4 linked regions of the Homo sapiens genome follow. The protein of the gene in region 1 interacts with the protein of each later gene in a pairwise test. Each region holds a gene or a part of one and is shown in the gene's direction. Other genes may lie near its edges.

Region 1 (7,901 bases):
TAGCTCAATCAAATATAGATTGTTTTAAAATTTTCACTATAAGTAATACAGTGGCTAATACCTTACTAATAAATGGATAATGTCATATAGCAACGTAGCTTACAGAGTTTGGAGGCAAGCTTGCATGCTATGGAGTCTACCAGAGAGTCATTGAAAGCAGAACTGGGAACTGATTTGCTTTCTCAACTGAGTTTGGAAGATCAGAAGAGAGTAGATGCACTGAATGATGAGATTCGTCAACTTCAGCAGGTAAGTAGACAGCTGACTGGAAAAAGAATTCGTTAGTAATTGGCTATTGTGAAAAGGGCCTTTCTTGCTAACTAGGGCAATATGAAAGAAAAGAACTGAGAAAATATTAAAATGAGGCTTGGACTTTTAATATACATAGGAGTAAATAAGATTTTGTTTTTCTAAACCAATCTAGCTAGGTTAGGATTATACAAGAAATTTTCATTTCCTTAAAATTTAGTTAATTAGCATTACTTATTAGTTGTAAGTATTGCTATGAGTTTGAGCTTGTTAGCCTTACCATATTTATCTTACTGCCTTTACATATTTAATGTTTTGATCAAGCATTTTAATTGATTTTTAAAACTGCATAGATGTAAACTACCAACACCGATTCTAAAAAATGAAAAGCATTTAAAGAAACTGTTTTTGACAGCATGCGTTATAAAAAGGGCCAGCCACAAAAATTTAACATTATGAATTGATAAGAGAAAAATGAAGAAAGTATAGGGCTTTTTTGAAGAATATAACATATTAAACTTCATTTCAGCTCACATGAGCACAAGTACTAGAGAGGACAGCAAATGAGCACCATTCCTGTGTGTGAAATGTACATGCTTATATAGACAACTTTTTCTTAATTCTAGGAAAACAGACAGTTGCTAAATGAAAGAATTAAATTAGAAGGTATTATTACTCGAGTAGAGACTTATCTCAATGAGAATCTGAGAAAACGCTTGGACCAAGTAGAACAGGTGTGTATGTGTTTTTTTTTTTTTTTTTAAGGGCTCCTTGGTGGCCATGACCTATTGCAAGTGGTTATATCAGAGGCTCTGATTGAAAGCATGGGCTTTGGGGACAGAAAGCTTAGTGTCTTGTGGGCCTTGGGTTGGAATTCTGCCACCTAGTGTGTGATTTTGGACAAGTCACTATTTCTAAGCCTCAGTTTCTTGTGTGAATTAAGCATTATCATACTTGTTTTATATAATTGCTATCCTGACACATTCTAAGTACTTTGTTAATATTTTTTCAGTGGTGGTTAGATGCTTAGAAATTTTCTAGTAATTGTGTCTTTTTTTTCTTCCCTTTAATGGATACTTCTAAGTATTTGTAATTATATGATGTATTTATATTTTTTTGTTTTCTTGAATGTTTATTCAGACAATAGCCATAGAAAATGTTGGCAGTCATAACATTTGAAACTAATGGAATTTGTATTTTTTGTTACAGGAACTTAATGAGCTGAGAGAGACAGAAGGGGGTACTGTTCTCACAGCCACAACATCAGAACTTGAAGCCATCAATAAAAGAGTAAAAGACACTATGGCACGATCAGAAGGTGAATTTTTATGTAGTAAAATTTTGTTTATATGCATGTTTTATAAAATTGTTTACTACAGAATGAAATGTCCAAATAGGCAGAAGCATATGCTAATGATTTTTTGTTTTCCATTATAAACAATGTATAGCAAATGGAATTTAGGAAGTTGACTATAAATAGTAACTTTTGTTTTACTGAAATGTTTATGACAATTTTGAGACCATAAATGATTCATTTTGTTGATAAAATATGAAATACCTGACGAAAGTTTCTCATCACTTAGTTGTTAGAAAATAACTATAGTTTATAAGCATTAACATTGAATAATGAAAATTATATATTTGAGTGACTCATATATACTTCTAATTTTGTACTGACTTAACATGGTTCATAAATTTTCACAGAAAATTTTAAACACAAAACCTAAAACCTATTTTGGTAGGTTTGATCATAAAAATCTATACTCAACATATAACACTGGCTTTATAGGTATTATAGCCTAATTTTGTTTCCCCCCATCTTAGATTTGGACAATTCCATTGATAAAACAGAAGCTGGAATTAAGGAGCTTCAGAAGAGTATGGAGCGCTGGAAAAATATGGAAAAAGAACATATGGATGCTATAAATCATGATACTAAAGAACTGGAAAAGATGACAAATCGGCAAGGCATGCTATTGAAGAAGAAAGAAGAGTGTATGAAGAAAATTCGAGAACTTGGATCACTTCCCCAGGAAGCATTTGAAAAGTACCAGACACTGAGCCTCAAACAGGTTGGTTTTAAATTTGAAGTCTTGTTACAAATTGCTCAGTATATAAATTTATTTATATGAATACATATTTTCTCTTTATAGTTGTTTCGAAAACTTGAGCAGTGCAACACAGAATTAAAGAAGTACAGCCATGTTAACAAAAAGGCTTTGGATCAGTTTGTAAATTTCTCCGAGCAGAAAGAAAAGTTAATAAAGCGTCAAGAAGAGTTAGATAGGGGTTACAAATCAATCATGGAACTGATGAATGTACTTGAACTTCGGAAATATGAAGCTATTCAGTTAACTTTCAAACAGGTATGTTTCGCTTTGTAGTTAAAACATACACACAGAGGACAAAAGCTTCCAGCTCTTTTCAGTTTGTAAAGATTTTAAAGCTGTTTTCCTCATTACCAGGTGAATCTAATACATGTGAACAAACCTAGCATATAGGTTTACAGTAACTTGAATGTTTTACACAGCCCTTAGAAGGATCTAGTCTGTTATCCTTGTTCTTAAGATTAAAAAATAATTGGTTGCTTTTAAATATTTTACTTAAGTGTTATATATAATTCTAAGCAAAATTTATATTTCAATCTGCTTTTGTTTTAAGGTATCTAAGAACTTCAGTGAAGTATTCCAGAAGTTAGTACCTGGTGGCAAAGCTACTTTGGTGATGAAGAAAGGAGATGTGGAGGGCAGTCAGTCTCAAGATGAAGGAGAAGGGAGTGGTGAGAGTGAGAGGGGTTCTGGCTCACAAAGCAGTGTCCCATCAGTTGACCAGTTTACTGGAGTTGGAATTAGGGTAAAATACCTTTATATTCCATTTTCCTCAGAGCATTACCATAATAGAATTTATAGTATCTTTTGCAAATCTGATTGGTGCATTATATGCAAGTTACTTTTGAAAGATGGTGGTGATTCTGCCCTTTAGGATATTAACTCATAATATGTTTATTTTTAGGTGTCATTTACAGGAAAACAAGGTGAAATGAGAGAAATGCAACAGCTTTCAGGTGGACAGAAATCCTTGGTAGCCCTTGCTCTGATTTTTGCCATTCAGAAATGTGACCCGGCTCCATTTTACTTGTTTGATGAAATTGACCAGGCTCTGGATGCTCAGCACAGAAAGGCTGTGTCAGGTACAGTTTCAGTACAGTTTTGGTTTTGTATTTAACAATAAGCTGGTAATATTTGCTGATGTATATATGAAAAAATCAAACTCAGGCAGTTTTGAATTTTAGTAAGAGTAAAGATAGTTGCTTTTTAAATTTTCAGATCTGCTGAAAAGAAATTTGTTAAAGCACAATTTTCTTTTTACAGATATGATTATGGAACTTGCTGTACATGCTCAGTTTATTACAACTACTTTTAGGCCTGAACTGCTTGAGTCAGCTGACAAATTCTATGGTGTAAAGTTCAGAAATAAGGTAATTTTATTTTACATTGAGTTTAAGTTTGTATTTATTCAATTATATTTGTTGAATTCTGATTTTATGTTACTTAAATAGTGAAAGAAAACTTAGAAAGTCTTTGCTTATCTGATGTCTTTGTAAAGAAAGAACTTTTCCTTCAAATAACTATGAAGTTTAGCAGTATTTTATGGCGTTGCATTGGTTTTATTTTCATTGGCATTAATAAACAATATCTTTCTGTCCAGTCTATTCAATGCTTCTGTAATGCACAGTCTTTAACAATTATATATGTTCATTTGTATAGACTGCATAGCTCTTCCTGGGTGTCTTCCCAACCTTAAAATTCTTGATGAAATAGCAAAGTAATAGAAAGTGAACAAAAAGGTAGTTTAGATGTTTAGGCATGATATTTATTTCTTCAGAGCATTAAAATACATATTTTTTAAATCTATGCATTGAACAAACACCACTGTAAATAAAGGTTTTATAAGTCAGTGCTTCAGAATTATTTTCCTTCATATGTAAAATATAGGTGATAGGCCGGGCGCAATGGCTCATGCCTGTAATCCCAGCACTTTGGGAGGCCAAGGCAGGTAGATAACCAGGTCAGGAGTTTGAGACCAACGTGGCCAGTATGGTGAAACCCCCGTCTCTACTAAAAATACAAAAATTAGCTGGGCATGCTGGCGTGCACCTGTCGTCCCAGCTACTTGGGAGTCTGAGGCAGAATAATTGCTTGAACCTGGGAGGCGGAGGTAGCAGTGAGCCAAGATGGTGCCACTGCACTCCAGCCTGGGCAACAGAGCAAGACTCCATCTCAAAAAAAAAAAAAAAAAAAAAAACTAAAAATTAAAAAATGTAGTTAAATGTAGTTGATAGGCTGTATATATTTACCCTATACAATGTAAACACTGATGTAATTAACAGATTTTTGTTTTTAACATTTATTCTTCAGGTTAGTCATATTGATGTGATCACAGCAGAGATGGCCAAAGACTTTGTAGAAGATGATACCACACATGGTTAATTGGAAAATACTACCTACTGGTTTGGGAGATGTATATAGTAATATGATTCTCATACCCAGGAACTGTAAATTTAAACCTAAATATTTGGCCAATAGTTTTCAGACTTAAAGCATCATAGTCCTTTTATATTTGTCTTTGTATTTTATAAGATACTCTGTAATGTCATGTTTGTACTGATAGTTTAAGAATTTAATTTCCTGTACAACTTTTTGTAAAATGTTCTGCTCCTATTTTAAATGTTTTGAAACATGCTAAATATTCTTTCCTAATTATTTTATCACTTATACTACCTTTTTTATAGCTTCAATTAAATAATCGGTTTTATGACTAATATAGTGTTTTATGTGGCTTTTCATTTGTCATAGTCTCTTCCAGTGAGAACACTAATCAGATTGGATGTAAGGCCTCATTTTAACTTAATCACCTCTTTAAAAGACCTGTCTCCAAATACAGTTAAATTTGAGGTATTGAGGGTTAGGACTTCAACATGTGAGTTTGGGAAGGGAAGCACAAAATCAGCCCCTACCATGGTATATTTATCATTGATACATTACTATCAACTAAGCTCAAGATTTTATTCAGATTTGACTAGTTTTTCCACTAAGGCCCTTTTTCTTTTCTAGGATCCCACAGAGGATACATTACATTTACTTACATCTCCTCTAGTCTGTGACAATTTCTCTGTCATTGTTTATCATATCTTGACAATTTTGAATAATATTCACATATTTTGTAGAATGTCCCTCAAATTAGGTTTGTCTAATATTTTTCTCATGGTTAGATTGGAGCTAATACCACAGAAGCGAAGTATTCTCATTACCTCATATAATAGTACATATTATTAACATGTTTTATCACTGATGTTTACCTTGATCACCTACCCAACATTGTACTTGCCAGGTTTCTTTGTTGTGAAGTTACATTTTTTTCCCTTTCCATACTACTCTTTTCTTTGAAAGTAGGTCTTTAAGCACTGGGGGTCTCCTGTGACCCTGGAAAACTACCTCAATAGTCCTCGTAGCTTTTTGTAGATTCTTTGAGATTTTCTACATAGACAGTCATGTCATTTGCAAGAAAGAGGCAGTTTTATTTCTTCCTTTTCAAATATTTACCTTTAATTTCTTTTTCTTGATTTCCCCTGGCCTGAGTTTATACTGGTTATCTGCAGGAGAATTTGTTAGGAGCTACTCTTCCATCATTGGAAACCAGAAATACCTAAAGAGATACTTTTAAAATAAAGAAATAGTAATGGGACTTTAAATTGAATTTAAAAATGTGAGTTTACTTTGGGTTTTCATTTTGACTGGCTGAATCTTTAAATGTTCGGTGTATTATTTATACTTTGTAGCTTTGCTATAACATAACTGATCTATAATAGAGAATTTGGTATATGTTCTATCTATGACTACATTCAAAGGGTTACGTAACTATAATATCTTTCTAATATTTCTACCATTTTTCTTACACATTTACCCAAGAATTTTTCTCAAACAACTACCTAAGAATATTCATCATGAATGCTTGGTGTATAGTTTACGATTTGTAGAGTTGCTCTGATATGACCAACCCCTTATAATACAGAATTTGGTGTAAGGTAAGTTCCAGGATTCAATTCAAGGGATGTTACAAACATAACATCATTCTAGAACTTCTTAATATTGTTCTTAAGCATTTCCCCAAGGATATTAGTATAATGAAATGCCAGTAAATTTATAACAATAAAGCATCTAAATAATGAAACAAAATTTTTGTAAAAGCCTATATTCTTTGCGATATCTTAGTCATGAATTAATTCTAATGAGACTGAATAGAAAAATGTGACAATCCTGAGCATGCTTAACCCAGAAACTTAGAGGAAGGACAGACATTTACCCAAGGAGTTAGCCAGTGATTCATAAGAAAATCTATGCTTCTCTTTGGCTGGATAGTCCTTTCCTCAGAGTAGTACTGATTCTTCCACTTTGAGATTTTGTTAATACTGTTACAAATACATTACATTCACCATAGTGGAATTGAAGAACATATATTTTAAGAGATGGTGGGGGGGGTCTCATCCCATCACCCACGCTGGAGTGCGGTGGCAGGATCACAGCTCACTGCAACCTTGAACTCCTGGGCTCAGGTGATCTTCTGCTTTGGCCTGCCAATATTAATATTTTGGGGCATTTCCTTCAAATCTTCATAAAAAGTTTTGTGGTTTATGTTTATTCTAGGTGTATAATTTTATATCTTAGATTTTTAATTTAGTAATAATATAAAATATTCCTGTTTTAATGCTTTGGAAACAAGATTTTAATAGTCATATACTATTCTGTCAAGTAGAAGTAGCATAATTTACTTAAATATCCCACTGGAGGCTTAGATCGTTTTCTTTTGGCTAAAGTACCAAAAATGAATTAAAAAACAGATCAACATTTTTATACATAAAACTCCCAACATTTAGGATTATTTTCCCAGCGTAGATTCCTAGAAGTCAGAGTGTGAATATTTGTAAGGATTTTTGTATACTCTTTATGCTCTTTTTGAAAAAAATGTAAAATATGAAATGGTTAGTATGTAGGTTAAGGATTTGTCTACTCAAAATTAGTGAAATAGTAATTTTAGAAAATGATGTAATTTATAGAAATAATTTTACTGTGAATAATATAATCAGTAGAAAAGGGAGAAATAGAAAGGGAGGATTTCTTTTTTAAGAGTAAGCAATAGCCGGTCGGGCACGGTGGTTCACGCCTGTAATCCCAGCACTTTGGGAGGCCAAGGTGGGTGGATCACAAGGTCAGGAGATCGAGACCATCCTGGCTAACCTGGTGAAATCCCGTCTCCACTAAAAATACAAAAGATTCTCCGGGCGTGGTGGTGGGCGTCTGTAGTCCCAGCTACTGTGGAGGCTGAGGCAGGAGAATGGCGGTAGCCCGGGAGGCAGAGCTTGCAGTGAGCCTAGATCGTGCCACTGCCCTCCAGCCTGGGCGACAGAGCGAGACTCCATCTCAAAAAAAAAAAAAAAAGCAATAGCAAACGGGTCTTTGGAAATATTTAGTTAATTCTTAAAAGGTGTTTCTCTTTTAACAACTATCTAGGCCAGGCGCGGTGGCTCGGTGCCTGTAATCACAGCACTTTGGGAAGCTGAGGCAGGCGGATCACTTAAGGTCAAGAGTTCAAGA
Region 2 (7,901 bases), on another chromosome or scaffold:
AATTTTTTGGTGTTTGTTTCTCAATACCCACCCTCAAATGTAACCACTTTTCTGATTTCTATTAGAAAATAGATTAATTTTCCCTGATTTTGGACTTCCTATAACTGGAATAATATGGTATATATTTTTTGGTATCTGGCTTCTTTTGTTCAATACAACATATTTGTGATTAATCCATGCTGTTGTGTAGGTCAATCATCTTTATTGCTGAGTAGTATTCCATTGCAAGGTCATACCATAATTTGCTTATCCATTCTTCTGTTGGTGGAAATTGCAGGTGTTACCAGATTTGAGCTCCTATAAACAAGGCTGCTCTGGACATTCTTGTACAGGTCTTTTGGTGGAAATATACTTTCCTTTTCATTTGGAACTTCTGGTCATAGAATAGGTGTATATTTAACTTTATTAGGAGCTAACAGACAGCTCTTCAAAGTGGCTATACCATTTTGCATTCTCATAAAAGCAGTGTATGAGGGTTCTGGTTGCTTAACTTCCTCCACAAATATAGGATAATCAGTCATTTTGATTTTAGTGATTCTAATGGGTGTGAAAAGTGCTTTGGGGTCATAAGATTAGCCCCCATTAGAAGTTATCTATTATTATTATCACCAGATCACGACTCAAACATTTTTAATAAAGGGCACCTGAGTTCCTTCTTTATTGTAATCATGCCTCAATCTTCTTCTTGTCCTAACCCCTCCAAAAACCACATCATAACCCCCAATATTGGCCATACATCTATTTAAGTATTATGTGTAAATATATGTTGGTAAATATGTTAAAGTATTGGCTTTATAAAGAGGACCCAGTAGAGACATCATCAATGCCCCCCACAATACCCAGCGAGTGCTTGGAAAATGGCTAGGTTCGTATTTTTCTGCAGCTCCCTAGAATATAACAGTCTACCCTACTTTGTTCTGGGCTCTGTCCCCACATCTTAGGAGTTGCATTCTCTTTCGGGCTGCACAGCCCTATGGGACGTCAAACCTTGCCTTTCTTGACAACTGATGGGAGGTCCCTACCATCAGCACCTTCTCCAGTCTATCAACCTGGGTTGGACGTCCCTACCTAGACACAGCTTCTCTTGGGGACGCTGTGGAGGAAATCGGGGTCTCGGGTGTGGCTATATACTCAGGGACAGAAGCTAGACGCGCTCCGCAGCCTGAGGTGGGCCAGGCACCTGCTGGGCTCGGGGTGGCAGAGACAGCTGTGCGGTCCCAGCTGTTCCTGAGCGCACCGCTGAGGGACGCACTCCCTTCTACAACGGCTGCACCCCAAGTCCTCCTCCCATTCCTATATTTTTCTCCATCCCCTGCCCACGCTTAATTAGTTATCTCCTCCAGACCCCTCCCCACTGGCCTCCTCCCTTGCACACGCGAGCTGGGCAGGGAAGAGAGCGCCCGGCTCAGTACTGCGCGCGCCCTGCGGCTGTCCGGGGCCGCGCGGTGGCCAAAGCACAGCGCGGGAGAGTCTGCGATGTCAGAGAACGGCTCCTTCGCCAACTGCTGCGAGGCGGGCGGGTGGGCAGTGCGCCCGGGCTGGTCGGGGGCTGGCAGCGCGCGGCCCTCCAGGACCCCTCGACCTCCCTGGGTGGCTCCAGCGCTGTCCGCGGTGCTCATCGTCACCACCGCCGTGGACGTCGTGGGCAACCTCCTGGTGATCCTCTCCGTGCTCAGGAACCGCAAGCTCCGGAACGCAGGTGAGCACCATTCCTGATGCTGGGTGCTGGCATCGGGCCCTTCCTTGTCTTCTGATCTTGTCCCTGACCCCGGGATATGCGCTGCCTTTTCCCTCCTCAGCCCGGGCTCCCCTTTCCCTTCACTCTAACCTATTCCTTAAGTTTGACTCTGCACTCAAAAGTTAGGGTGAGTTTTGCCCCTCCGAAGTGCGGCTGCCCAGGACGCGCTTGGCACAGAGGGAATTGCGGAAAGTTTTACTGGCGCGCTTTTTGGCCGGGCGCCGGCGCTGTGGGAACCCACGCTGCTGGATGCCATCGCTACCCCGTCGCGCTCCAATGCGTGTCTTTCCAGAGGTGCCCACATCAGGCCACAGAAATCTCACCACCTGTACTTGACATCCCACTTCCTTCCTTGCCAAGCACTGTAGCTTTATGTAGTAGTCGCTTAGAAAATCCTTGCTGAAAAAATGAGTTAATCAATGGAAGCATTTCAGTAGGTTTTGTGTCAAAAACTTATCTCCAGGTCATCTGAAGACCCAATTCCAGTTGACGGAGAGTAAATGCAGAAATTGCAGATTCTGCTTGGACTGAACTAAATTGCTTTGAAATATTGTGGTCTTTTCCGAAGACTGGGAATTCCTGGGATTAACTGTGAAAATTAAAGCAATGATTTGGCTAAATCGTGTTGTAATCCTGAAAATATTTTTCCTATTTCAATCCACTCTCATTTCAATATTCCCCTAGTCAGGTCTTCAAAGAAACAAAACCAGAGTGGGGGGCAGTATCTGAACTCTAGCCCTCACAGGTCATGGGGCATGATGACCACTTCAGCTTAGGAAGGAGCTCAGTCACCTGTTTGTTAATTTTGCAGTTTCTTCAAGTTGGGCCTTGGGAGCAAATTCAAATATTAGAGTGAATTAAAATGGAAAGATAGCAGCAGTAAAACAACCATATAGCTTAAAAATGCTTTTCTAAGGAGTCAGACCATTTTTAGCAAATAGTAATATGTATTTGGTGTGGCCTGTGACTCTAGAAATTTTTTTTTTTTGAGATGGAGTCTCTCACTCTGTCACCCAGGCTGGAGTGCAGTGGCATGGTCTAGGCTCACTGCAACCTCTGCCTCCCAGGTTCAAGGGATTCTCTTGCCTCAGCCTCCCGAGTAGCTGGGATTACAGGCGCTCGCCACTACACCCAGGTAATTTTTTATATTTTTGGTAGACACAGTATTTCACCATGTTGGCCAGGCTGGTCTCGAACTCCTGACCTCAAGTGATCCACCCGCCTCGGCCTCCCAAAGTGCTGGAATTACAGGCATGAGCCACTGCGCCCGGCCAACTCTAGGATTTTTAGCTAAAAAAACAAACAAGAAACTCCTCCAACTGTGAGTATCCAGCCATCATATGGGAAACATAACATTATTAAGAAGAAGTAAACTTTCTAACTCACTTCAGTAGTGGTGGCTGTTTTCTGGAATACATTGTTCAAAATATTGTGTCCTTTGAAGAAAAGCTTATATATTAGGGAAAAACAGGTTATGATTAGAAAACTGCATTTAATATTTTTGACACATTGTCCCTTGCAGCCATCATAAACATTCATTTCCAGCACAGGGAAGCAAAAGGGAGACAACTCCTGGCTCTATGGGGGAGAAATGGGTCCTCCTGGTTCTGACATTGGCCCCTTCTGTCCCTGACTTATTGAGTATTTAGAGCAGGTCTGTCAGGCCATGGCTCCCTGCTCAGTAATTTGGATTGCCCACCATGAGAAAGGTGGTTGAGGGAAGTAGGAGTTGCTTCCTTTTGCTGGAAGGAGAAAAGCACCCCTCCCCTCCTGCATCCTACAGAGGGCTGGCCTTTTCTGTGATCCTGGCAGGGTCTGCAGAAACCTAACCAGTTTAAGAGCATCACTGGGGAGGGTCATGAGCATGTTAAATTGCTGGCATATCCTCTGTTCTATCTTTCCTACCTCCTGATGTGTCCGCTACAGCCCAGCACCCGAACAAAAAAAAATAATAATAACACTATATCTAAATGACATCAATTCCTGCCACTGCTGCAGTCTTGCAATTTAACCAGTTCTTATGTGACCTCTGGCTTTATTGGTGACAGTCACAAACAATTGTAGTACTGACTTGAACTAAATGATCTCAGCAGAGTGAGATTTCAAAAGGCGCTTAAAACCTACAGCTCTTTGAATAGTTAGCACACATTCTACTCTTAATCAGGCCTTGTCTTACTGAAGAGTTTGGATTTAATTTAAGAAACGCTTCTTCAGACCTTTCTGTACTTAAGTCTGGCTCCTTAAATCATTGGTATTAAAAAATTAAGTCTGTAACAATGAGAATACATATATTTCCAATAACCAAGATACATAGCCCATATTGAGGTCACAGCATGTTTCCCAGGAGACACCAGTATCCTTTACTTGCCTATCACAAACCCAGTTCCTCTATGGAGCAGATCTGTATCATTCCTAACAGTGCCGCTCCTGATGGCAGGGTGAGTGGTTAGATTAATTGTCTTTTTTTTTTCAGGGATATCCTATCTGTAGTGTCTGTTGCTGCATGTGGTGGGTTGACTTCAGAGATAGCACCAGAGAAAGGCAGACAGGGAGGAGTGGAGGCAAGGTGGGAGGTAGGGTCAGGGCACCGACCCAACTTAAAAGGTAAGGCCAAGTGTGTTCACTCTTTGCTACATTCTCAGAGTCTTGCACAGCCCATGGCACTGGGTTGGCACCTCACGCCTGTCAGATTGTGCTTCCCAGGGACTTGCCACACTTTTGACTCTACTGAGAGCCGTTGAGAACTTTCCCTCCTGGGCTCACCACTGCTGCCCTGACCCTTGAGCTACACCTCGCTAATATTTATCTCTTGCATTTTTGAGCTCTTCCTTTCTCTCTTCTGGAAACTTCCTCCATGTTACACACACACACGATACACAAAGTCTCCTGTTTTAAAAGAACAAAAGACTCTTTTCTTGACTTCATGTCCTCCTAACTTCATCACTACCTCTCTCCCTCCCTTTTCAGCCAGACATTTTAATGTAGTTGTGGACATCTACTGGTTCTACCCCATTGCTTCCCGTCCTTCCTCAGTCCTCTGGGCGCCATTCTCTGGAAATGTTCCTCTGTGCTGTGTGTGACACTGAGGGCCACTCCCTCTGTGGGACCTTTCATTCCCTCGGCTAACCTGGTGCTAGTTTTTGGATCTCCTTTTTCTCTTCATCTCCCGGATACCTGTGCCCTGAAAGTCATCTTTGGTTCCTCCTACTCTTTCATTCCACATGTCCTAATGATTTTACCTTCCACTATTTCTCAATTTCTCCCTTTCCTGCCTCCTTATTCTTACTGCCCCACTTCATGCCTTCATCATCTCTTGAGCAAACACTATCCATAGTGCTTGAGAGCTTTTCCTGCTCCCTCCCCCAGCCACTGTTACCACTGCCAAGAGTTTCCCTGTCTTCAGTGGCTGCCCTCCATCTCCAGAACAGTGTCCAACTCCAGAGCACAGCTCCCACGGCCATTTGCGGCTGGCCTAGCCCACCTAACTTACAGCCTCATTGCCCTCCTCTCACCAGTGTCACAGTGAGCTGCTGCTACTTCCCAAAGGGTCTGCACTCCCTGATGTACTTTCTCTACCTCTTCTGCCCAGTCAACAGCTGCTCCTCCTTCAACTCCTTCCCCAACTCCCCTGAAGGATTATCAATGTTGATTATTAATACCATGAAGGGGATAGTAAGTGTCTCCCTTGTTGGGCTTCTAAGATACCTGTGCCCTCCCCAGTACAGCATCCCCCTCACTGTACTATTGTTCTTTGTCTCTCCCCGCTGGACCGTGTACCTGCTGAGAGCAGACACTTTCATTCAGTTTCTGTCCACAGAGCCAGACACATAGTAAGAACAGAACACATCTCTGATTAAATTGGAAATGGATAAGACACCAGGTAGTGGGGGAAAATTAATTGATTTTGCTCCATGAGCTGGGATAGACCTCAGTTACAGTACTCAGCACTGCATAAGTAATCAATACAGGTTTTCATGAAACTGAACTGCTTTGAGAACAGCCCAAAGTATATCTCATGTTAAGCTGACTATTGGCACCTTCTGCATGAAGGCATGCTTGTTCTGTGATTCTCCTGTGTGAGTAAAGTTGCTCAGCAGTTTCCAGCCATGCCATGGTTGTACCCTACTGATTCCTCTTGGGGAGTTTGCCCCTGATATGCTTTGGCTGTGTCCCTACCCATGTCTCATCTTGAATTCCCACATGTTGTGGGAGGGACCTGGTGGGAGGTAATTGAATCATGAGAGCAAGTCTTTCCCATGCTGTTCTCACAATAGTGAATAAGTCTCATGAGATCTGATGGAAAAAGAGAAACTCCCCTGCACAAGCTCTCTCTCTTTGCCTGCTGCCAGCCACATAAGACATGACTTGCTCTTCCTTGCCTTCCACCATGATTGGGAGGCTTCCCCAGCCATGTAGAACTGTAAGCCCAATGAAACCTTTCTTTTGTAAGTTGTACAGCCTTGGGTATGTCTTTTGTTGTTGTTGTTTTTTGTGAGACAGAGTTTCACTCTTGTTGCCCAGGCTGGAGTGCAATGGCATGATCTCGGCTTACTGCAACCTCTCCTGCCTCAGCCTCCTGAGTAGCTGGGATTACAGGCATGAGCCACCACACCTGGCTAATTTTTTTTTTTTCTGAGACAGAGTCTTGCTGTCGCCCAGGCTGGAGTGCAGTAGCGCAATCTCGGCTCACTGCAAGCTCCGCCCCCTGGGGTTCATGCCATTCTCTTGCCTCAGCCTCCCGAGTAGCTGGGACTACAGGCGACCGCCACCTCGCCCGGCTAATTTTTTGTATTTTTAGTAGAGACAGGGTTTCACCGTGTTAGCCAGGATGGTCTCGATCTCCTGACCTCGTGATCCGCCCGCCTTGGCCTCCCAAAGTGCTGGGATTACAGGCGTGAGCCACCGCGCCCGGCCTAATTTTGTATTTTTTAGTAGAGATGGTGTTTCTCCATGTTGGTCAGGCTGGTCTCAAACTCCTGACCTCAGGTGATCCACCCACCTCAGCCTCCCAAAGTGCTGGGATGACAGGTGTGAGCCACTGTGCCCGGCCTTGGGTATGTCTTTATCAGCAGCGTGAAAACAGACTAATACAGCCCCTTTCTTGGTCTGGCCCGAGGTGGCCACTTTTAAGCTGCCTGTAATATGCTGGCCATATAAGAGAGCTGAGAGAACCATGTCCTCACTGTAACACCCAAGTACTCTCCACTATCAGAGAGGAAGTCATAACAACACCAGTTATTCCTGGCTCCATAGGCACAGCCACCTTAATTTTCCAAGTAGCAGTCAGAAGCTGTGGTCTGACAATGGATTTTTGTGCTGCAAATGGGTTAAAGAGGCTGTCTGGGAGGTTTAGTGAGTGCACGAATTGGCATTTCTGGGGTACGTTGATGATTGGTAAAGCAGAAATATATGAACTATTTGATGTTAAGATTGCCTAGGAAAACATGGAGGATTTGCTTGCTGAACACACAGATCTTTGTCCAAGGTCACTCTGTCTATGCTGGCAAAGCTGCCCCTCCTCCAGGCCCCCAGTGATGCTAAGAATTCACACCATCTCCTATCCAGAACCAGTAACTGCCTGGGAGGTTCCTGATGGGAATATTCTGCCTATGCAGGTGCTTTGCTTCCCCGGTTAGATTAGAAAACAGTCTGCACTGTGGCCCCTGTTCCTTGCCTCCTCTCTTCCAACTTGTTGACTGAGACAGCAAATGATGCTTAATAAGCAGCATGGTTCTGAACAAAGGCTCTGGAAGGCCTAGAGTGAAATGCTTAATAGGCCCACAGCCCCTACCCTCCAAGTTATAGAATGAAGTGGAGCCCACTCCATCAAGGCTTCTATCCTACCACCGACCACTCATTGAGATGTCACTTGGCATCAGGTGTCTTTTGACTTGCTCAGCCTGCAATGTTTAGAGTGCCATTATCAGCCCAAGACCAAACTGGGTAACCTTGGACTCCTTCCTGAATGTTTCTTAAGCTGTCCAACTTTGCATTTCAGCTGTGAATACCTTATTGCCTCTTCACTGAGCAAAAATGAACAGTTTTTAAATCCCATAATTATGTCTTTAGCTGAATAATCAGGAAAGCTAATAATCCTCTTTAATTCCTCCCATGTAACTTTCAGTAGCTCAAGGGTATAAAGACTTTAATGTTTGCCTGTCTT
Region 3 (7,901 bases), on another chromosome or scaffold:
CTGCAAGTTTGGTAGGATTTGCATTAAACATGCGTATCGGTTTGGGGAAAATTCATGTCTTTACTGTGTCCTGTCTTCCATTCCATGGACACAGTGTGTCTTCTCATTTATTTAGATTTCCTTTGATTTCTTTCATCTGCATTGTTTCGTTTTCCATTTCCAAGTCCTATACATGTTTTGTTAGATTTACAACTAAGGATAGTCTTCTATTGAACAATTGTCAATGGCATTGTATTTTTAATTGCAGTGTCCATGTTTTCATTGCTCATACATAGAAATATAGTTGATTTTCATATGCTCATCTTGTATACTACAACCTTGCTGAACTCACTTATTAGTTGTATGAGTTTTACGTTTTACTTAAAGTCCCAATTATTTAACACTTTCTATGTGCCAGGCATTATGCTAAAGCTTTCTTGTACTTGTCCAAGCCAGTAAATGGTGGAACTAGGATCTTCATACATAAATCATTTATCCACTTCATTAGTTCATTTCACAAATTCTTAGGCAGAGCTTATGTGAATCACAGTGAATCTAGGCACAAGGTCCTGCCCTCCTGAGCCCACAGTCTGAAACTAGCAGAAGTAATGCAAGTGAATATGTAGCTATGATACGTTCAAATTAAATAAGTTGATTTGTTACAACTGAGTGCATTTACTAGCTCATTCTGTAAGTGGGTGAGGCAAGGAAGGGCCCCTTACCGGTCTGGAGTGGGTGGGGGGGTGTCCAGGGAGGGCTTCCTAAAGAAACAGTGTTGCAGGGCATGATGGCTTACATCTGTAATCCCAGCGCTTTGGGAGGGCAAGGCAGGAGGATCACTTGAGCCCAGGAGTTTGAGAGTAGCCTGGGCAACATAGTGAGACCCTGGCTGTAAAGAAAGAGAGAGAGAAGAAAGAAAGGGAAGAAGATAACCATCTGATCTTTGACAAACCTGACAAAAACAAGCAATGGGGAAATGTTTCCCTATTTAATAAATGGTGCTGGGAAAACTGGCTAGCCATATGTAGAAAGCTGAAATTGGATCCCTTCCTTACACCTTATACAAAAATCAATTCAAAATGGATTAAAGACTACATGTTAGACCTAAAACCATAAAAACCCTAGAAGAAAACCTAGGCAATACCATTCAGGACATAGACATGGGCAAGGACTTCATGTCTAAAACACCAAAAGCAATGGCAACAAAAGCCAAAATTGACAAATGGGATCTAATTAAACTAAAGAGCTTCTGCACAGCAAAAGAAACTACCATCAGGGTGAACAGGCAACCTACAAAATTAGAGAAAATTTTCGCAACCTTCTCATCTGACAAAGGGCTAATATCCAGAATCTACAATGAACTCAAACAAATTTACAAAAAAAAAACAACCCCATCAAAAAGTGGGCAAAGGATATGAACACACACTTCTCAAAAGAAGACATTTACGCAGCCAAAAAACACATGAAAAAATGCTTATCATCACTGGCCATCAGAGATATGCAAATCAAAACCACAATGAGATACCATCTCACACCAGTTAGAATGGCGATCATTAAAAAATCAGGAAACAACAGGTGCTGGAGAGGATGTGGAGAAATAGGAACACTTTTACACTGTTGGTGGGACTGTAAACTAGTTCAACCATTGGGGAAGTCAGTGTGGCGATTCCTCAGGGATCTAGAACTAGAAATACCATTTGACCCAGCCATCCCATTACTGGGTATATACCCAAAGGATTATAAATCATGCTGCTATAAAGATACATGCACACGTATGTTTATTGCGGCACTATTCACAATAGCAAAGACTTGGAACCAACCCAAATGTCCAACAACGATAGACTGGATTAAGAAAATGTGGCATATATACACCATGGAATACTATGCAGCCATTAAAAATGATGAGTTCATGTCCTTTGTAGGGACATGGATGAAACTAGAAACCATCATTCTCAGCAAACTGTCGCAAGGACAAAAAACCAAACACTGCATGTTCTCACTCATAGGTGGGAATTGAACAATGAGAACACATGGACACAGGAAGGGGAACATCACAATCCGGGGCCTGTTGTGGGGTGGGGGGAGGGGGGAGGGATAGCATTAGGAGATATACCTAATGTTAAATGACGAGTTAATGGGTGCAGCACACCAACATGGCACATGTATACATATGTAACAAACCTGCACATTGTGTACATGTACCCTAAAACTTAAAGTATAATAATAATAAAAAAATTAAAAAAAAAAAGGAAAGAAGGAGAAAGAACTGATGTTAATTTTCCCAAGCTTATTGATTCTTATCAACTCACATCAGTTTCTGACATTCAGAGATGTCTGTGATCAAAGCTCATATGAAGAGAATTCTAAATGTTGCATGGCAAAGAACCCAAGAACTCCTGGCCCAAACCGCATGCAGCTCCCCACTCGTCTCTGCGTCCTCCTCACCTCCTTCACCTGCTGCTGTCTCAACTTGACCCCTTCCATCTGGCCCCTGACCCCTGGACTCTGTGGCCTCCCTGAGCGGCCAGCACAGTCACGTCTAAGTCGACCTGACCATCTGCCTGCTGGGTGCTGCTGGCTGCTGCTGGCTGCTGCTGGCGCTGGCTGCCCTGCACATTCTCCATGCCCTCCTTTCCATGGCACCAGTTTCTGCCTCTCCTTTGGGTTTCTTTCCCCTTGCCCCCTGGCAAGCTGGGTTTTGAAGTCATTTGGGATGGAAGGTGGGCCATTTGAAGAGCTGTAGGGTCAGGCCCTCATTCTGCCAGTCCATTTGGGAAAAATCTTCCATGTCACTAAGCTCTTGTAACAATAGCTACAAAAGTTGCTTGTTAGTTGGGAACTGAAATCTGCCTGTATAGAGATTTGCCCTCAGATGGATTTCCAGGTAAAGACAGACCCCCATCCCCATTGAGCAGGGAAGGAGCGGCCCCTCCCTGGCAGTGCTGTGTCCTCTGATGGCGTGCAGCACTTCAGAGTTACTCTGTTAGGCAGCATGGCTCTCCCTTTGCATGGGAGTGAGTGTCCCACAACCAGCACTGTCTCTGCCTGCGCCTTTCCTCCCAGCCCCATGGCCGTGTGCTGAGTGCACCGGCCCTGTTCTGCCTTTGGACTGAGGAGGCGTGTTCCTCTTCCTATGTCTCCCTGACTGTAGGAGCGATCTCTCTTTGAGTCGGCATGGAAGAAGGAGAAGGACATCGTTTCCAAGGAGATAGAGAAGCTCCGCACGTCCATCCAGACCCTGTGCAAGAGCGCACTTCCCCTGGGGAAGATCATGGACTACATCCAGGAAGACGTGGATGCCATGCAGAATGAGCTGCAGATGTGGCACAGCGAGAACAGGCAGCACGCCGAGGCCCTGCAGCAGGAGCAGAGGTGGGGGGTAGTAATGGGGAGGGGGCCCTGCAGCAGGAGCAGAGGTGGGGGGTAGTAATGGGGAGGGGGCCCTGCAGCAGGAGCAGAGGTGGGGGGTAGTAATGGGGAGGGGGCCCTGCAGCAGGAGCAGAGGTGAGGGGTAGTAATGGGGAGGGGGCCCTGCAGCAGGAGCAGAGGTGAGGGGTAGTAATGGGGAGGGGGCCCTGCAGCAGGAGCAGAGGTGGGGTGTAGTAATGGGGAGGGGGCCCTGCAGCAGGAGCTGAGGTGGGGTGTAGTAATGGGGAGGGGGCCCTGCAGCAGGAGCAGAGGTGAGGGGAAGTAATGGGGAGGGGGCCCTGCAGCAGGAGCAGAGGTGAGGGGAAGTAATGGGGAGGGGGGCCTGCAGCAGGAGCAGAGGTGAGGGGAAGTAATGGGGAGGGGGCCCTGCAGCAGGAGCAGAGGTGAGGGGAAGATAATGGGGAGGGGCCCTGCAGCAGGAGAGAGGTGGGGGGGAGCAGGGGGATAATGGGAGGAGGCCTGCAGCAGGAGCAGAGGTTAAGGGTAGCAGAGGCAGGGAGTAATGGGGAGGGGGCCCTGCAGCAGGAGCACAGGTAGGGGATAGCGGAGTGGGGGGAGTAATGGGGGAGGAGGCCCTGCAGCAGGAACAGGTTGGGGTGGGGCAGGAGGGTAATGGGGAGGGGGCCCTGCAGCAGGAGCAGAGGTAGGGGTGTAGCGGAGTGGGGCAGTAATGGGGAAGAGGCCCTGCGGCAGGAACATAGGTGGGGGGTAGTGGAGGGGGGATCCCCAAAGTCAATGGGGACTTTGCTGCATACCTCCTTGTCCCAGAGGTTGTTCTGTATGTAATTTAAGGACTTCAAGATTATCATTGAAGAAATATTAACTGCTGCTTTTATAAATCTCATGTTTGACTTCACTTTTGGTTGTAGCAGGGGTTGTGAAAATAAGAAATAAATATTATCCTTTTCTTTGGATGAAACGAATAATTTACTTCTGTTGTCTTTCAATGTCTTAATTAAGAAGCCAACACACAATGAGATGAGAGAGTGATGAGCCGCTGGTTTTGTTCTCCCTCAGGATCACAGACTGTGCCGTGGAGCCCTTAAAGGCTGAGCTCGCGGAGCTGGAGCAGCTGATCAAAGACCAGCAAGACAAGATCTGTGCTGTGAAGGCCAACATCCTCAAGAATGAAGAAAAAATCCAGAAAATGGTATATAGTATCAATTTGACTTCGAGAAGGTGAACACTCAAAAGTTTCAGAGATGAAAAGTCACCTCAGTTTAAAAGCAAAAAGGAAGATAGAAAATCATTACTCTTTTAAGTTCCAGTTTGCTAAGAAAATGAACAGTTTACAATGTTATTATCCAGCTAATTTTCAGAGCTTTAAAACTGTAAGCATGTTAAGTGTATTAAAAAAACCATGTTTTCTTACCTCCTTCCAGATGGAATACTGGCTAGTTATAAATAGCGCTTCCAAACACCTCTGTGAAAAGTTTTTTTGAAAGCCTGTTCTTTGTGTTTCTGCTGTAACCTGTTTAGTTCTGTACCAGAACTCTCTAGCAGGTAAGTGGTGTGGGCATACCAAGGGAACAGTAGTCCTTTATTTTGGTTTAGTGGAAAGACTTTCAGAGGTCAGTGCCGAATGAAGGATGACTGTGTACTTTTTGATAGGCACTTGATAAGTAGAATGAGGCCTGAAAATGAATACATTATATTTTTAGTTAATTTCCAATGGAAAGGGCTAACCTCAGCCTGTCTCCATATCAGGTACCTATCAACTGGATTGTTTTCATTTTTGTTTTTTGACCTCTTTGTAATTGCATGTACTTCTCTATGTAATTTTCCTCTTGATCTCTACTATCGTTTGCTTGTGTTTCTAGTCCTTAAAGTTCATAAATTTAAAAAGGAGATTTCAGGATGGCCTTTATGGACGTTGTCTGGACATACATCCTCACTTTCTTCCGCAGTTTACCCTGGTTTTCCTCAGACAGAGGCTAGCGCAGCCCCCCGGAGTCCTTGTTCTCCTTAAGAGGGTCTCGCTCTGCAAAGCATTGGCGCCATGGCTTTTCCTTTGCATGGGTGTGCATACCGAGAGACAGGCAGCTTAGGAAAAACAACATAAGGAAGACTTAAAAGGATGCACTGATTTACGACGTTTTTTGATGTTAGCCATTTTTTTGGAAATTGTTTTTTAAAGCAAAAGTTTTTTAAAAACATGGTTTATAGTTTTTCACTTACATATACTATTGTAAATACTTAGCAGAGTCTTAAGTTACTGTATAAAACATTTCATTGTGTTTGAAGACATACTTATGGGTCTTGAGGTCTGGGTCCTAATACTTTTAAATAGTGTATTTATTATGTAAACTGAGGAGTGCCATTTAAAGTGTGAGGATTGCCTGAAAAGGTTTTGTTTCTTTCTTTTTTTTTTTTTTTTGAGATGGAGTCTTACTCTGTCGCCCAGGCTGGAGTGCAGTGGCGCAATCTCGGCTCACTGCAACCACCGCCTCCCGAGTTCAAGTGATTCTCCTGCCTCAGCCTCCTGAGTAACTGGGACTACAGGCGCACGCCACCATGCCCAGCTAATTTTTGTATTTTCAGTAGAGATGGGGTTTCACCGTGTTGACCAGGATGGTCTCCACCTCCTGACCTCGTGATCCGCCTGCCTCGGCCTCCCAAAGTGCTGGGATTACAGGCATGAGCCACTGCACCCGGCCAGGTTTTGTTTCTTTAAGGATTAGCACAAATGGCACCGTTGGGTTTTTCTTCATACAATTTCCAAAATAAATTCTGTACTCAGGTTGTTATATGATTTTCTGAGCTGAATAAGTTCAGGAGCAGATTATTAAGATCTGCCATTCTGAAACGCTGGTCTTTTTCTCCTTCCTATAGTGCACCATAAAATTCTGTTTGATCAGATTATATTACATACATTTTGGGGGAGTGGAGGGACATGAGTTAAGTAGCCCTTCATGTATTTATAATCTCTTTTCTACTGAATCAAATGACTTAGCCATGACCCTGAATGGACCTTGTTTTACTTCAAGTTGAGATGTCTGCCTTTTATGAATTTGTATATGTGAATAGAGTTTGGGGGTTGCCAAAAATTGCATACATTGTATGTAAGTAAAATTTTTTATGAAGTAGTCTGTCAAATTGTATCATAAAGTTTATTTTTCTTTTATACGTAAATCATTAAAAATAATCACATATTTTTTCCATAAGTGTATGGATTGTGCAGTTCGATTCACACATGGAAAAATCATAAGCATTTGGATTTTTTATTTTCAAATGTGTGTGTTTTGTTTTTCTCGTGAGGAAAGTTCAGGGAAATACATCTTTTCATTCATATTGTGACACATCTCTTTTCAGTATGAATTGAAGTTTTATAAGATAGGTAAGCATTTATCAGAAATTGTAAGATCATTTGTGAAGTTTTAGAAGGTCTCTACACGTGATTGTTACTGTATCTTATCCTACACACTAGATCCTGATCTTAATTTGAGAAATTTAATTTTTCTCTTATTTTGAGACAATACACAAATGGGATTATTAAGTATTTTTCTATACTTTGGTTTATAAGTTTTCAGGGAGTACTGGAGTCATACTTCAGGAATTTGAATTTAAAAGTTGAGCTGATGATAATTTATATTCAAAGGAAATGCATAATAGACCTTTGGAAGAAATAGTTCAAGACTAAAATGCAGCTTTCTACTTTGATATTCATCCTTATTTTTCTTTTTAATAATCAACTTTTAAAAACTGAAATCTATGAAGAAAAATGATGTCACTTGGTGACATGAAGTGCTACTTAGGATTTGGGTGATATGGAATTCTAGTCAGTGTATTAACGAGTGCCCCCGAACTATTCCGGTGCTAGTCTTCTGAGCTGCCCTGGACTGATGGGGTTTATCTTCTGTTGGTCGATGTGCACAGTGTCATGGCACACGAGTAAGAGAAAAGATGGCCAGGGCCTTTGAGCAGCTTTGGGATCAGTAGCCAGTGTGAGCCAGCAGCAAGCAGGATGAGCAGCCTGTTTGAGCTTCCGCAGGAACCTGCTTCAGAAGGAGGCCACGCCCAAGCAGGATCAAGGCTCAGCATGTCACCGTCAGGGAAGACACTAAACACCCAGACCTGGACTTGGCTCCCCACTCTGGACTCTTCTTTCCACACCCGAAAGTGCAGAGAGTAAATAACCTTGTTCATGGCGCCTCTACGTAGACCACTGTGGGCTCCTCTGAGGGGCTCTCCAGCAAAGACTAATGTAGCAAAGCAGAAGTAAGAAAAATTCTAAGTCAAGCATGAGCCAGCCTAAGTCGGAGGAGAAGGAATAGCTGTTCTCAGTGATTCTCAAATGTAACTACTTGCTACATTTGGGCTCTGAGTTTAACTCTATCATAGGATACACTTTATTAATAAAAATGTTTTATATTTTCCTAAAAGGTGTTTCAATAAGTATGGTTTATGCAAGCTTTACATTGGGGCATTAGTGAAGCCCCCTAGTCAGAACCCCTTTTTGATTATGTGTATTTTCATAAAGGGATATTGGGAGG
Region 4 (7,638 bases), on another chromosome or scaffold:
AATCCCCTAGTTAGGTTAGGTGCCTTCTTATGTGCACAGCACTTCTCCTGTCCCAGCACTAACCACACTAGATTACTCTGGCAGCTTGTTTGTCTTTCTTGCTATACCATAAGTGTGTGAGGGCAGGGACTTGGTAGTTGGAATTGGATATTTGGGGCCTGAATGAATGAAAGAAATCTCTTTCTGATCTGAGTAGGTTGCTCATTTTGTAAATTGTAGCCTTATTAGTTAGGCTATTAAGCAAATTTCCTACATTTCTGTTGGAAAGAGAAAAGTTGCTACAATTTTTTATTTGTTTTGTTTTCTAATCTACCATCCAGGCCAACCCATGGCCAGCACAGACATGATGGAATAAAGACTGAGCACTACAAAACAGATCTTCATTCTCCAAGAGGACAAGCGTCGGATAGTATAAACCCCATGTCTAGGGTGCTAAGCCCCCTGAGTCCTCAAATCAGCCCTTGCAGCTCCACCAGGTCTTTGACTTCCTACTCTCTATGTAAAACTCATTCTTTGCCTTCAGCGCTAGATACAAATGAAGCCAATTTTTCTGACACTATGTCTGAGAGTATGAATGACCAAGAAGAGTTTATATCTTCGGTATGGAAACTTTCTGATCTTAGTAATTTGTTAGTTTTTTAAGTTTGCTTTGATTTTTTATTTTAAGGGTGAAGAAGGTGATTTTTTTTTCCTTACTGATTCTTTTATCATAAGTACTCTTCATTATTCTTAGGTATCCCTGTCATACAGTTTTTGCTTGTGAAGACACTTTCGGCCAAGACTACTTTTCAAAATGTTCTGAAATATGTTATACGTATTCATTTGTCTTTAACCCTTATTGGAAATTCCCTTCTTGCCCTTTTCAGTGATGCTCAATTTTCTTCTGGAATGGTTAGTTCAAGAACTGTCTCTGGATGCCAAGATAGTCCTGAGGCACAGGCAGTGAAGGAGGAAAAGAGGAACTGCTGGAAAGGAGAAAGGGAGTGTGGAGGGGGAGGAAGGCTGTGCCTCTGATGTGTGCAGAGCATGGCTTGGGGGTCACAGATGGTGGCCCTCAGGGCAGAATGTGCCTTGGACACCATGCCGGTCCCTTGCTCCTTCCATTGCTGGGCAGGCTGCACCATCTTTTTGCCTTCTGCACCAAAGCACTTGCCATGGGCCCTTCATTTCCTGTCACCAGCTGTGGCCATATAGATGTGAAAGTGCAGTATTTCTGACTTATTAATGTGCTACCAAGTCCATGGAAAGGTTTTCTTTTATTTTTCAAAATAAGTCCTCACTTCACTTTCTTCCTAAGTTTAGCAGCAAAATTTTTTTGGCACCAGAACTTTCCCTGGCCTGAACTGATGTGTTAGTATGTATAGACTTTCTCTATTCCACTTAGTGTGAGTATCCATGTGTTTTGCTTCAGAAATATCAGTGTGTTTGGTGATGGGATGTTCCCTCAGACTCCACTGGGGTAATACAGTTGATCCTCATTATTCACAGATTTTGTATTTGTGAATTTGTCTACTCCCTAAACTTTATCTGTAACTCCCAAATCAGTATGCGCAGCACTTCCACAGTAATTCGTGGACATATGCAGAGTGACAAAAAATTTGAGTGACCGACTTGCACAATCCCAGCCAAGGTCGAAGTAGGCAGCACTCTGCCTTGTTGCCCCTGCTTATGCGGAGGTGACCATAGGGTGGAGATGGACGGGACAGCGCAGTGTAGGGAAAGAAGCTCAGCTCCATGCCAGCTGGATAGAGTCTGAATCCCAGCTTCAGCACCAGTTAGTGGGGCAGCCTCAGGAGAGTTACCACTTCTGAACCTCATGTCTCTCATGTGAAATAAAAAATACAGAATCTACCAGAATGATTTGTTCTAGGATTTAGGATTATGCTCTCTGTGTGGGGTATGTGTGTATGTGTGTGTGTGTGTATTTGTTGTATGTGTGTATTTTCCCTGGGCCAAAAATTCTGTGTTTGCTAATTCAGTGTTTTGGGTGACTTTATAGAACACAACTACTGCTATTGTGAATGAGTATTGACTGCATATGGCATATGTTCTATGTTACCTTTCTAAAATCAGAATTCTGAAATATCACTAGCCTCAAGGGTTTCAGATAAGGGACTGTGGACTGAAAATTTGGAGGAGAAAAAATAATTGATTTTAGCTGGCATCTAATTTATTTTTGTTAAATTTTTGTGCTTTAAAATAAAAGTGACATACTTAGGTTTTTAAAGTGAGTTTGAAATAATAGGCATTAACTATGGAAGCATATATAAGTCTAAATTGAAACATTCTTCAGACCAATAACTAATATATGATACTTTACATTGTTACAATTTGGGTCAGAAACGGAGAGATCTGTGTTAATTTTTGCAGAACTTACTGATTTTTGTTCTTTTATTGCTCTTGTCATTAGGATGAAAACCAAAAAAGTATCTTCAGAGGAAAAAAATCACCTTTTAATATTGCTAGTTAGAAAATGTCATGAACAGTGTATCTTAGAAATATAATATTCTACTTATTTACACATGTCAAAATTTGTGTCTCTTCCAGTGTTCCTTGCCTGTATCTCCCCTTGGTTCAATAGCTACCAGATTTTTGGAAGAGGAGGAACTGAGGTCTCATCACATTCTAGAGCGCTTGGATGCCCATATTGAAGAACTAAAAAGAGAGAGTGAAAAGACAGTGAGACAATTCACAGCCTTAAAGTAGCCTCTTAAAAAAATCACTATCTTGGAAATAAAAATAAACACCAAAGAGTTACTGTCATCTGAAGTAGCAGCTCTTTAAAAACATGAAGAGATAAAATTATAAAAATGATACATCTAAAGCAGTGGTGAAGAAAGCTGAAAAACTGATACTTTTGATAGGCATTTTCTCTGCACTGGTTTGTTTAAAGGACTTCTTCCAGCAATAAGTTGAAAGAATAAACCACTTTGCTAGACTTTTTTCTCATACGAATATTTATTATCATAAAGTGATACTTACCTTGCTGACTTAAATGTGAATAGCTATGTACTAATTGAAATAAGGATTTTATGATACATGTTGAAAATAAAGTAACTGCAGGAACTTTCTTTAGGGGAAATGTGTAGAAGCATGGATTTAGGGGTCAAACATACCTGGATCGATAGACTGGTTTTGCCACTTACCAGCCAACGGGGCTTGTTATTTACTGGGCTGGTAGCCCCTCCTAGCCAAGGGGCTGGTAGTGTGTAAAGTCAGGCTGGTAGTGAATAAGGGGGGGGTGTGCTAAAGAACCTTATCAAGCAGTCCTCTCTTGCTCAACACTCATGCAGAGGAGAGAGGCAGGGAGGGCAAGGGACTGGCTGTCATGCACGGTGCCCATGGAATATCCATTGGAAATAAATGTTCATCGTCTGCACTGCTGAGGACAAGTTTAGATGGGAGACAAAGATCTGGATGTTGATGTGCCGCAGGCATTTGAAACGATGGGAGTTGATAAGATCCACCAGGGAGGCTGTGGAGAGAGAGAGGAGCAGGAGGCTGGGTTTGGGGCCCTGAAAGATGCCAGCATCTGAGGATCACAGGAAATAGATCTAGCAAAGGAACTAGAATGTGCAGTTACAGATGAGAAAGGTCAGTGTAGTGTACTTGCCAGCTCAAGGGTGTGGCCTCTGTGAACCCTCTTTCTGTAGTGGATCTTTCCCATCAGCGTAAAACATCCTGTTATTTCCCCTTTTTAAATAAAACCTCAGTTTTTTTTAATGCCTCTCTTTTACTGCTCTGTATGTTTGCTTCCCTTCACCCAAACACTTCTGGAAAGAGTTGTCTGCAGTGACTCTTTCCAGTTCCTCACCCCGCCCCACCGTAGTTCTCTTCCTAACCCTCTCCAACACCACTTCCATCCCCAGACTGCTTTCTTGCTCTTGAGTTCACCAGTGACCTAATCAGTGTCTGAGCATCATTCAGCACAGTTGGACTCTCTCTTGGCTTCTGTGACCTGGAACTTCTGGTTTCCTCTCTACCTCATCCTCCACTCCATCTCATGGCTTTTCCTCTTCTAACCTCTAAGTCAGAGGGCCCCCTAGAGCTCTGTCATGGGTTTTCTCCCTCAGCATTCTCTTCCCTAGAAGTTTCCATTCCATTCTCAAGCTCTTAATACCACCTATAGGCCAGTGACCCTTACATTTATTACTAATCTTGACCTCTCCCCAGAGCTGCTGTCTTAGATACCTAGCTGCTTATGCGATGTCTTCACTTGGATATCTGACAAACATCTTGTTTCCAAGAGAGAACTCTTTATTCTCCCTCTTGCTAAGATTCCATATCAGGACATAGCATTATGTTTGCCAGTTCCTAGGAGTTACTTATAATTCCTTCCTTACCCACATCCGCATATCCAGTCATTTGGGAGGTCCTGTCATTTCTTCCCCCAGAATCTTATCTCAGACCCAACCGTTTCCCTCCTGCACTTCTACCACCTGATCCAGACTACTTCTCTCTCACCCTGATTCTGGCAGTAGCCTCCTAACTGATAGTACTCACACCAGTAATTCAGGGAGCTTCTGGAGTTATCCTTTAGAAATGTAAATGAAACAGTGTCACCACTGCTTCCCTTCAGACTCTTCCAAGGCTTCTCTTTTTTTTTTTATTGAGACAGAGTCTCACTCTGTCGCCCAAGCTGCAGTACAGTGGCAGGATCTCGGCTCTCTGCAACCTCCACCTCCCGGGCTCAAGTGATTCTCCTGCCTTAGCTTCCCGAGTAGCTGGGATTACAGGCGCATGCCACCAGGCCCAGCTAATTTTTGTATTTTTAGTAGGAACAGGGTTTCACCATGTTGGTCAGGCTGATCTCGAACTCCTGACCTCAAGTGATCCACCCGCCTGAGCTTCCCAAAGTGCTGGGTTATAAGCGTGAGCCACTGCACCCAGCCCCAAGGCTTCTTACTGCACTCAGAATAAAATCCAAATGAATTAGTATAGCCTACAGAGTGTCAATAATCTGGGCCTAATCACCCATTGCATCATCCTTTACTGTGCTCCACCCATGCTGGCGTCCTTTCTGTTTATTGAGTGCAGCAAGCTTTAACCTGTTCGGGTCTTTCATTTGCAGTTTACCCTGAATATTCCCTTTCTCTTACCTCACCTTTGATTGGCGTTTTCCCCCTTGCAGACCTGCACTCTGGCATCCTCTCCTGAGCAAGCCTTCTTTGATTGCTGCCTCCCAAACCTGTTTCTCCCCATTTCTCTAGCTCATTGGCCTGTGTTACTTGCTTCATAGTGCTCACTACTATCTGAAATCATTTCATTACTTGATTTATGTTTGTACTGTCTATTTCTGTCTTTAGAATTAAAACTCCTTGAGGGCAAGGACTTTGCTTCTCTGGTTCATGGTGGGATCCTCATCACCCAGCACAAGCCCAACACTTAGGAGAGGCTCAGCTAGTTTGAACCAATGGAAAATGCCATTCCTGAGGTGCACCACATCGTTTCTTTTGTGTTGGTGTGCATGCTGTCCTTCAGTTTGTCTCCTCTTCCCACACCCTGTCATGTGCTCCTAAAACTCCCCCTTTACTTGGCTACTTTATCTGGCTTGGCAAAGCTTTCCCATATCCCCTGACCCATGTCAGGGAACGTTTCTCCTCATTGCTGTCATGGCACCCTGTGTGTGGCTCTGACCAGACTTTGCTATCCGCTTTGATTTCTGTCTTTCAGGGGCTAAGTCCTGCCTACATCCTCAGTCAGCATGCTGCCTAACACATAACAGATCCTAAGCAAATATTGGGTGGATGAAAATCACTACCATTCAAGGCTTCATTGTATTTATCAGTAAAACTGAAATAATATCTAATGGGGTCGAGAAGATTTACTGAAAATATATATTTGAAAGGGCTTTGCAGTTTTAAGTACTGTACCTATGTGCATTGCTGTTACATTCAGGAGATTTCTGAGTTTTAGACAGTCCCAAGCTTCAGCTTAAAATCTGTAGACTGCAGCCCGTTTCTGAAACGTTTGTACTACGTGTTGACTAGGAGGAACAATGACAGACTCTGTAGTCACCGGAAATACTTAAGGAATCATGAGGTACTATGTATTTCCTTAAATTATACTGTTTTTTAAAGCTGAAGTATCTAATAGTTAATGGGTTGTCCAAATTTGTCAGAACATTTGACTGTAATTTAATGTCTCACCATTTTTCAAAAAGATATATTAATACCAAATATTAAAATGTGTCAAGACTAAATCTGAGTTAGTGTCTTAACACACATTTTCCAAAATCTGTCCGTGATCAGGGTACCCAAATGAGATGAAAAGATTAGGGATTTGTAGTCTACATCTGGTGTTTACAGATAATGTTTTATTGGGCAAGTCATCTCATTCTTCTTGTCCTGGATTCCCATGAATTTTCATCTGGATTCCTACGCAGATTTTAGCTGAAGAGGGCAAAGTTGACTTCCCACTGTGGGCTGGACATTACCTTCCCTTGCAGACTCATTTGATCTCAACAAGTGTAGAAAAAATACTACAACACTCTGTTTCTGTGACATCTGCTTAAACCCAAACAATTCTTACCTTCTCTCTCTTACATACACATAACACCTGGTAAACTGTGGGTGATGATTTTCTGTTTGCAAAACACTCGAGTCCAGTACCTAAAAGTTGCAGATAAGAAAGATAATTATAAAATAAGCTCTATGGCATGAGAACATACGTTAAGCAAACAGTTGTCATGAACAGCACTGAAATGTAGAAAAAGTTAGAAATGTGTCAGCTTGTCCCAAAACAGTTTGAAATAGTATAAATGCATCAAAAAGTAACAAACAGAATCGGGGCAGAGGGAAAATGAGGGCTGTAAACATTGATTCACTAATGAATCTAGTTGTCCAGTCCAGTTGCTAGAGGAAGGCAGCCAAGTTACCTCTGAGCTTCAGAGGGGGAAAAGCAGAGGAGAAAACATTTACCTAAAAGTTTTATGGTGCCCATAAGATAAAAAAAAAAAAAAATCATAGACTTAAGAAAAGCACAGATTTTTTTTGTGTGTTTGAATAAGCGTTTTGTAAAGTATGTGAGTATCCAGAAGAGAAGTCCAACATTTTCATAACTGGTAATAATAATCTGCACAGCTCCCCCCACAGTATGCTTCACTGTGGGTTGATGGCATAAGGCTGACATCCAAATTCAGAGGAAACTGTTCTGAGAGGGCCACAAACATGATTGCGTAAAGCTCTCATGGCCTGAAAAGGGAAAATTTAGAGGGATGATAGACTGCTTTAAACCAATCTTTTGTAAAAGCTATTTCTCCGCAGTGCAATTTTGATAATTCAGACATACAATTCACATCTTTTTTTTTTTCCCTCTCTGTGAGGAACTAGAATTTGGGAATTTTATGTTGCCCATTAAGACCAGGTTCAATTATTTGACAATCATCCAGTCAGAAGAACTTTTGCACTCCTCTTACAAAAAGAACGTAAGGCAGTAGTTGATAGGGGAAGGTCTAAAACTCCTTGATATTAAATGCAAAACATTTATTAATGTTAATAATAGTAATATAATAATATTAAATGCAAAAAATGTGCATTGTGCATTTTTCTGGGGAGAAGGTTCATAATTTTCATTAGAATCTTGAAGGTGTCTGTGAATCAAAAAGAGATTAAAAACCATAGCTTTAGGGACTAGAGT

Evidence for each region.
Region 2: the proteins of SMC3 (region 1) and MTNR1B interact in a two-hybrid assay, tested with the Homo sapiens proteins (one large-scale study listed by BioGRID and IntAct).
Region 3: the proteins of SMC3 (region 1) and TRAF3IP1 interact in a two-hybrid assay, tested with the Homo sapiens proteins (2 studies listed by BioGRID and IntAct).
Region 4: the proteins of SMC3 (region 1) and CEP63 interact in a two-hybrid assay, tested with the Homo sapiens proteins (2 studies listed by BioGRID and IntAct).

What each region holds. Positions count from the first base shown.
Region 1 is NC_000010.11:110,599,564-110,607,464, forward strand, and holds the end of SMC3 (structural maintenance of chromosomes protein 3), read left to right. Parts: intron 1-90; coding exon 91-249; intron 250-875; coding exon 876-983; intron 984-1,458; coding exon 1,459-1,567; intron 1,568-2,073; coding exon 2,074-2,321; intron 2,322-2,402; coding exon 2,403-2,615; intron 2,616-2,910; coding exon 2,911-3,102; intron 3,103-3,261; coding exon 3,262-3,439; intron 3,440-3,620; coding exon 3,621-3,727; intron 3,728-4,667; coding exon 4,668-4,739; 3' UTR 4,740-6,485; downstream 6,486-7,901. UniProt on the Homo sapiens protein: Central component of cohesin, a complex required for chromosome cohesion during the cell cycle. The cohesin complex may form a large proteinaceous ring within which sister chromatids can be trapped.
Region 2 is NC_000011.10:92,968,250-92,976,150, forward strand, and holds the start of MTNR1B (melatonin receptor type 1B), read left to right. Parts: upstream 1-1,401; 5' UTR 1,402-1,476; coding exon 1,477-1,699; intron 1,700-7,901.
Region 3 is NC_000002.12:238,394,329-238,402,229, forward strand, and holds the end of TRAF3IP1 (TRAF3-interacting protein 1), read left to right. Parts: intron 1-3,130; coding exon 3,131-3,351; intron 3,352-4,425; coding exon 4,426-4,591; 3' UTR 4,592-6,569; downstream 6,570-7,901.
Region 4 is NC_000003.12:134,558,830-134,566,467, forward strand, and holds the end of CEP63 (centrosomal protein of 63 kDa), read left to right. Parts: intron 1-320; coding exon 321-600; intron 601-2,547; coding exon 2,548-2,706; 3' UTR 2,707-6,202; downstream 6,203-7,638. UniProt on the Homo sapiens protein: Required for normal spindle assembly.